Linked DNA regions of Homo sapiens. The protein of the gene in region 1 purifies or fractionates together with the protein of each later gene. This does not show direct contact. Each region holds a gene or a part of one and is shown on either strand. Other genes may lie near its edges.

What was found. The genes of interacting proteins can lie anywhere in the genome.
Region 2: the proteins of SLITRK6 (region 1) and PLEKHH3 purify together in Homo sapiens (affinity purification with mass spectrometry; one large-scale study listed by BioGRID and IntAct). This does not show direct contact.

The regions. Positions count from the first base shown.
Region 1 is NC_000013.11:85,792,290-85,796,419, reverse strand, and holds the end of SLITRK6 (SLIT and NTRK-like protein 6 precursor), read left to right. Parts: coding exon 1-2,437; 3' UTR 2,438-3,630; downstream 3,631-4,130. UniProt on the Homo sapiens protein: Regulator of neurite outgrowth required for normal hearing and vision.
Region 2 is NC_000017.11:42,670,705-42,673,994, forward strand, and holds part of PLEKHH3 (pleckstrin homology domain-containing family H member 3 isoform 1 precursor), read right to left. Parts: coding exon 3,230-3,290; intron 3,131-3,229; coding exon 2,939-3,130; intron 2,853-2,938; coding exon 2,695-2,852; intron 2,593-2,694; coding exon 2,472-2,592; intron 1,689-2,471; coding exon 1,382-1,688; intron 855-1,381; coding exon 647-854; intron 427-646; coding exon 290-426; intron 2-289; coding exon 1-1.

The DNA.
Region 1 (4,130 bases):
TTGTGATTCTCTTTGCAATTGTGAGGAAAAAGATGGCACAATGCTAATAAATTGTGAAGCAAAAGGTATCAAGATGGTATCTGAAATAAGTGTGCCACCATCACGACCTTTCCAACTAAGCTTATTAAATAACGGCTTGACGATGCTTCACACAAATGACTTTTCTGGGCTTACCAATGCTATTTCAATACACCTTGGATTTAACAATATTGCAGATATTGAGATAGGTGCATTTAATGGCCTTGGCCTCCTGAAACAACTTCATATCAATCACAATTCTTTAGAAATTCTTAAAGAGGATACTTTCCATGGACTGGAAAACCTGGAATTCCTGCAAGCAGATAACAATTTTATCACAGTGATTGAACCAAGTGCCTTTAGCAAGCTCAACAGACTCAAAGTGTTAATTTTAAATGACAATGCTATTGAGAGTCTTCCTCCAAACATCTTCCGATTTGTTCCTTTAACCCATCTAGATCTTCGTGGAAATCAATTACAAACATTGCCTTATGTTGGTTTTCTCGAACACATTGGCCGAATATTGGATCTTCAGTTGGAGGACAACAAATGGGCCTGCAATTGTGACTTATTGCAGTTAAAAACTTGGTTGGAGAACATGCCTCCACAGTCTATAATTGGTGATGTTGTCTGCAACAGCCCTCCATTTTTTAAAGGAAGTATACTCAGTAGACTAAAGAAGGAATCTATTTGCCCTACTCCACCAGTGTATGAAGAACATGAGGATCCTTCAGGATCATTACATCTGGCAGCAACATCTTCAATAAATGATAGTCGCATGTCAACTAAGACCACGTCCATTCTAAAACTACCCACCAAAGCACCAGGTTTGATACCTTATATTACAAAGCCATCCACTCAACTTCCAGGACCTTACTGCCCTATTCCTTGTAACTGCAAAGTCCTATCCCCATCAGGACTTCTAATACATTGTCAGGAGCGCAACATTGAAAGCTTATCAGATCTGAGACCTCCTCCGCAAAATCCTAGAAAGCTCATTCTAGCGGGAAATATTATTCACAGTTTAATGAAGTCTGATCTAGTGGAATATTTCACTTTGGAAATGCTTCACTTGGGAAACAATCGTATTGAAGTTCTTGAAGAAGGATCGTTTATGAACCTAACGAGATTACAAAAACTCTATCTAAATGGTAACCACCTGACCAAATTAAGTAAAGGCATGTTCCTTGGTCTCCATAATCTTGAATACTTATATCTTGAATACAATGCCATTAAGGAAATACTGCCAGGAACCTTTAATCCAATGCCTAAACTTAAAGTCCTGTATTTAAATAACAACCTCCTCCAAGTTTTACCACCACATATTTTTTCAGGGGTTCCTCTAACTAAGGTAAATCTTAAAACAAACCAGTTTACCCATCTACCTGTAAGTAATATTTTGGATGATCTTGATTTGCTAACCCAGATTGACCTTGAGGATAACCCCTGGGACTGCTCCTGTGACCTGGTTGGACTGCAGCAATGGATACAAAAGTTAAGCAAGAACACAGTGACAGATGACATCCTCTGCACTTCCCCCGGGCATCTCGACAAAAAGGAATTGAAAGCCCTAAATAGTGAAATTCTCTGTCCAGGTTTAGTAAATAACCCATCCATGCCAACACAGACTAGTTACCTTATGGTCACCACTCCTGCAACAACAACAAATACGGCTGATACTATTTTACGATCTCTTACGGACGCTGTGCCACTGTCTGTTCTAATATTGGGACTTCTGATTATGTTCATCACTATTGTTTTCTGTGCTGCAGGGATAGTGGTTCTTGTTCTTCACCGCAGGAGAAGATACAAAAAGAAACAAGTAGATGAGCAAATGAGAGACAACAGTCCTGTGCATCTTCAGTACAGCATGTATGGCCATAAAACCACTCATCACACTACTGAAAGACCCTCTGCCTCACTCTATGAACAGCACATGGTGAGCCCCATGGTTCATGTCTATAGAAGTCCATCCTTTGGTCCAAAGCATCTGGAAGAGGAAGAAGAGAGGAATGAGAAAGAAGGAAGTGATGCAAAACATCTCCAAAGAAGTCTTTTGGAACAGGAAAATCATTCACCACTCACAGGGTCAAATATGAAATACAAAACCACGAACCAATCAACAGAATTTTTATCCTTCCAAGATGCCAGCTCATTGTACAGAAACATTTTAGAAAAAGAAAGGGAACTTCAGCAACTGGGAATCACAGAATACCTAAGGAAAAACATTGCTCAGCTCCAGCCTGATATGGAGGCACATTATCCTGGAGCCCACGAAGAGCTGAAGTTAATGGAAACATTAATGTACTCACGTCCAAGGAAGGTATTAGTGGAACAGACAAAAAATGAGTATTTTGAACTTAAAGCTAATTTACATGCTGAACCTGACTATTTAGAAGTCCTGGAGCAGCAAACATAGATGGAGAGTTTGAGGGCTTTCGCAGAAATGCTGTGATTCTGTTTTAAGTCCATACCTTGTAAATAAGTGCCTTACGTGAGTGTGTCATCAATCAGAACCTAAGCACAGCAGTAAACTATGGGGAAAAAAAAAGAAGAAGAAAAAGAAACTCAGGGATCACTGGGAGAAGCCATGGCATTATCTTCAGGCAATTTAGTCTGTCCCAAATAAAATAAATCCTTGCATGTAAATCATTCAAGGATTATAGTAATATTTCATATACTGAAAAGTGTCTCATAGGAGTCCTCTTGCACATCTAAAAAGGCTGAACATTTAAGTATCCCGAATTTTCTTGAATTGCTTTCCCTATAGATTAATTACAATTGGATTTCATCATTTAAAAACCATACTTGTATATGTAGTTATAATATGTAAGGAATACATTGTTTATAACCAGTATGTACTTCAAAAATGTGTATTGTCAAACATACCTAACTTTCTTGCAATAAATGCAAAAGAAACTGGAACTTGACAATTATAAATAGTAATAGTGAAGAAAAAATAGAAAGGTTGCAATTATATAGGCCATGGGTGGCTCAAAACTTTGAACATTTGAGCTTAAACAAATGCCACTCTCATGCATTCTAAATTAAAAAGTTAAAATGATTAATAGTTCAGGTGGAAGAAATAAGCATACTTTTTGGGTTTTCTACACATTTTGTGTAGACAATTTTAATGTCAGTGCTGCTGTGAACTAAAGTATGTCATTTATGCTCAAAGTTTAATTCTTCTTCTTGGGATATTTTAAAAATGCTACTGAGATTCTGCTGTAAATATGACTAGAGAATATATTGGGTTTGCTTTATTTCATAGGCTTAATTCTTTGTAAATCTGAATGACCATAATAGAAATACATTTCTTGTGGCAAGTAATTCACAGTTGTAAAGTAAATAGGAAAAATTATTTTATTTTTATTGATGTACATTGATAGATGCCATAAATCAGTAGCAAAAGGCACTTCTAAAGGTAAGTGGTTTAAGTTGCCTCAAGAGAGGGACAATGTAGCTTTATTTTACAAGAAGGCATAGTTAGATTTCTATGAAATATTTATTCTGTACAGTTTTATATAGTTTTGGTTCACAAAAGTAATTATTCTTGGGTGCCTTTCAAGAAAATTAAAAATACTACTCACTACAATAAAACTAAAATGAAAACTCTTTTTTAAATGTGCTTTCTTAAATGCACGACAAGCTTTACTTGTCATGCAATCAAGTAAGGATTAACACACATACACACAAACATACAGACACACACACACACACACTGCAGGAGGTTTCTATTTGTTGTTTACACACAGAAGTATCTTGTTCATGTTGTGAAAAAGACTATTTGATTTTTGGTATGCTTAACAGGGAGCCAAATTTAAAGTATGTCTAGCAGTTTTCCCTTTCAAGCAAATCATTTTCTAATGCAACGTAAAAGGAAATGTTTTATTTCTATCGTTTCTAATTATAGAATCAATCATACCTGCACACTTTCACAAGGCAAAGTGAAATTAGTCAAGGTAATCTGGGAATGTTTTCTGAACACCACACAGAGTCATGTACTGGGCTATGAAGGAACACATTTTCCATAAGGAAGTACTCCCTTCAATTTACTCCACAATATTTCAGTGATTCTTAAATGGTCTATTAAATATTTTGGCTTTTAATAT
Region 2 (3,290 bases), on another chromosome or scaffold:
GCTGCAGAAGAGGAGCGGACGAAGCGCTAGGGAGAAGCCGGACCCCTACGGCGAGGGCAGCTTGGGGTGGGGGCGGGGCCATGTGTTTGGGGCGGGGCCTGGGCGGAGCCGACAGCGGAGGTGATGCTGCAGTCGGACTGCAAACCTGCGGCGGGCAGGTCCGTCTGTAAACCAGCGAACACCACAGCGCAGGGCCAGGGGCAAGCGCTGGATAATGTCCGCTTAGAGACTGACCTCAGCTGAGAAGTGGATGGGCTAATAGAGAGCAGGGCTGGGGCTGGACATTTACTTCTCAAACCTGGTGAGCACGTCGGCCACGAGGGTCCCCCCAGCCAGGGCTCGCTCCTGGGCCCCTCGCTGCTCGTACAGCGCGAATGCGTTGCGGCTCCGGGCCAAGCCCAGCCGCCCCACCAGCTCTCGAGCCACCTAGAAGAGGAGGGTGAGGGGAGACCACTCAGAGGTCTTGCCAGGATTCTGGGAGGGGTTGATTCAATTGGAAGGGGTCTCTTAGTCCTGTCACCACCACTCCCTCCCTTACCAAAATAATCTAGACTCGGGGCAAACCTAGGGTCCAGGAAGAGGGAGAGACAGGCGTGAGAAGCTGGCAGGGTGGGTTGGAGGTCATGGGGCCTTTCTCTGGCCTCACCTCCCCCGCCGTGGTGTGGGAGTCGATGGCCACAGCACAGGCACCAGCCCCCGGACAGTGCACGGTACACAGCAGCTCCTGCCGTTGGCTCAACGCGGAAATCTCCGCCAGCGAGGGCACCAGCTCTCTGCCGCGCGTCCGGCCCAGCGCTTTCCGGATGAAGCGCGCATATTCCGCCAGTTCCGAGTCCGGGAGTGCCTGCTCGGTCCTGGGTTAGGAGGAACCCAGGGATCAATACTCCAAGGGCTTTCTTCTCCCCCTCCCTCTTGCCTGCTTCTCTTATAGTTTATTTTATCTAGCCGATTTCCTCCCCGCCCCAACTCAAGTTCTTTGAAGGCTCTTCTAAATCTCTCCCCAGTGCTTTGCATAGAGCTGAATTACTTTTCAAGTCCCCTGGCAGCTTTCTCCCAACTGCCTCCACCACTTCCAAAAGTCTTCGTGATCTTCCTTCGGCCTGAAATCGAAATCCAGCCACTTTACTACATTTTCCTAAGCCCTGGCGCTGGCCTGCATCAGCTGGAGGAAAAGCAGCCTTTTCATAACTCCTCAGCCCAAGGGGGGCGTTTTATTGTAATTCATCCGCTCACAACTGCGATAGGATCTTGTATCTCCCACAAAGGCACTGTATGTATTACTCGGTTCTTTACCTACCAAGTCTTTTGCAAAAGACCTTTCATTCTCTCCCAGCCCGGTAGCTCCTCGCCTAGGCCGTAACCCCCACCTCGCCCCTCTCACCTCTCCAAGTGCCCCAGGAGGTGCCCCCGCACAGCTCCCCCAGGTCGGAAGGTGCAGCTCATGCAGGTGAGGAGTTGCCAGTACCGCAGGGCCGCAGGGTCTTGGGTAGCCGGGAGCCCGGGGGGACCTGCAGGGCCCGAGGTCTGCTTAGCCAGCTGCAGGAAGAGTTCATCCCGGAGCGCGGGCAAGTCCCGGCAGGTTTGGAGCACACCCTGCATCAAGGGCCCGGGGCGCCGCGCCCCCTCCAGCGCCTGCAGCGCCAAGAACAGCCGCACCGCCTCCTCGCGCAGGGGTGCATAGCCCGGACCTGTGGGAGGGTGGGGGCGGAGGGACGGTTTGGAGAGGGGACACAGAGCTGCGCCCTGGGAGGAAGGCATGAACCAGGGGAAGGTCAGAGGGAATATAAGGGGATGGGGTGGCAGGGAGGGGAGGGTACGAACGACAGGAAGAGTGAAGGGAAAGCAGTGGTCCCACGGAGCCAGACTCTCAACCTCTGCCTCCCAGGAATCCCCTTCCCAATCCCACTAAGCCTGCATTTGGACTTAGGGAGACGGACGGCCGGGAAGGGCTGTAGATTCACACCCCAGATTCTGTAACTCCATACTGAGGCTCACCACCATAGGTCAGAAAACAGGCTGGACTAGGAGTCAGAAAACCGGGGTTCCTCTCCCAGCACCCTTTAATCCTCTAACTTTAGGACCTGGGCCAGTCACTACACCGTTTAGGGAGAAGTACAGTTGGATGAGGCCAGCACATTCTACAAAAGTGGTAGCTTTTCTACCACTTGTAAAGGTAATATGGCATAGTCTCAAGAGGATAATGAAAAAATAGGGGAGTGTACAAACTCCTGAAGGAACATCAGTAGTCAGAATGAGACCCATAGAGAAGGTGGCCAAAGGGGGCCCTTTTGTGTGTGCTGGCTTCCTCTCCTCCACCCTGGCCAGCTTCCAGTTTCACCTTCATCCTTCGAAAAGTGAGGAGCTGGCAGGTCCATGAAGGATGCTTAGATCCCTGCCAGTTAAGGGATTCAGATTCTTACCTCTGAACCACCCCATCCCATCCAGGGGACTTGGGCCATGGGACCACTCACCTGGGGCGCTGACTCCATAGGGCAGGGGCAGGAGTGGGGCATACAAGGCTCCACTAGTGTGTCTCAGAATCGGGTTCCTCAGGTAAATGAGGGCAACGGCCTCTGGGTCCCCGCAACTTTCCTAGGGGGCCAGGGAGAGGGTCACCTTGATGGGGAAGGGAGTTCCTCACAACCCCAGAAAGCTTTGGGGTCCACCACTCTCCTGGCTCTCCCTGGTGTGTACCTGTATGTCCCTGAGCAGTAGCTGGGTGGGGGTCTCCAGGGGTGCCTTGGAGGCGATCACTTCCCGCAATGCCACCCCCCAGCGCTCAGCCTCTGCCTGGCGTGGGGAGCAGAGGCGGACACTGTGTTTCCGACCAGACACAGTCACTGACCACAGACCTGGGGAAAAGAGAGGCCAGGGAGGGCCATTAGGGTCTGCCGGGGCCCCTGCCTAGGAAGGTAGGAGAGTCCCCAGGAGGTCTCACCTGTCTCCTTACGCCTGCGCTCTGGGCCGGTCACCGAGCACAGGCTGGTGAGCACGAGGCTCCCGAGACGCCGCGCCCCTTTCCCGCTGCTGCTGAACTGATCCAGGGAGTCCCGCGTGAGCACAAACCAGGCTCGGCGCGGGGGCAGCCAGGGCCGCGCCCCTCCTCCGCGGGGCTCCCGGTACAGCCAACCTGGGGGCCGGAGAGGGAGGGAAGGGACATCAGTAGAGACATTAATCCCTAGGGGGTTGGGATTGGGGGCCTCCAGAGTGCACTGAGGGGGGTCTCTACCTTTCACAACGATGTCCGGGTCGTCCTCCGGCAGCCCTTTCTCCGGGATGAGGCTCCAAGT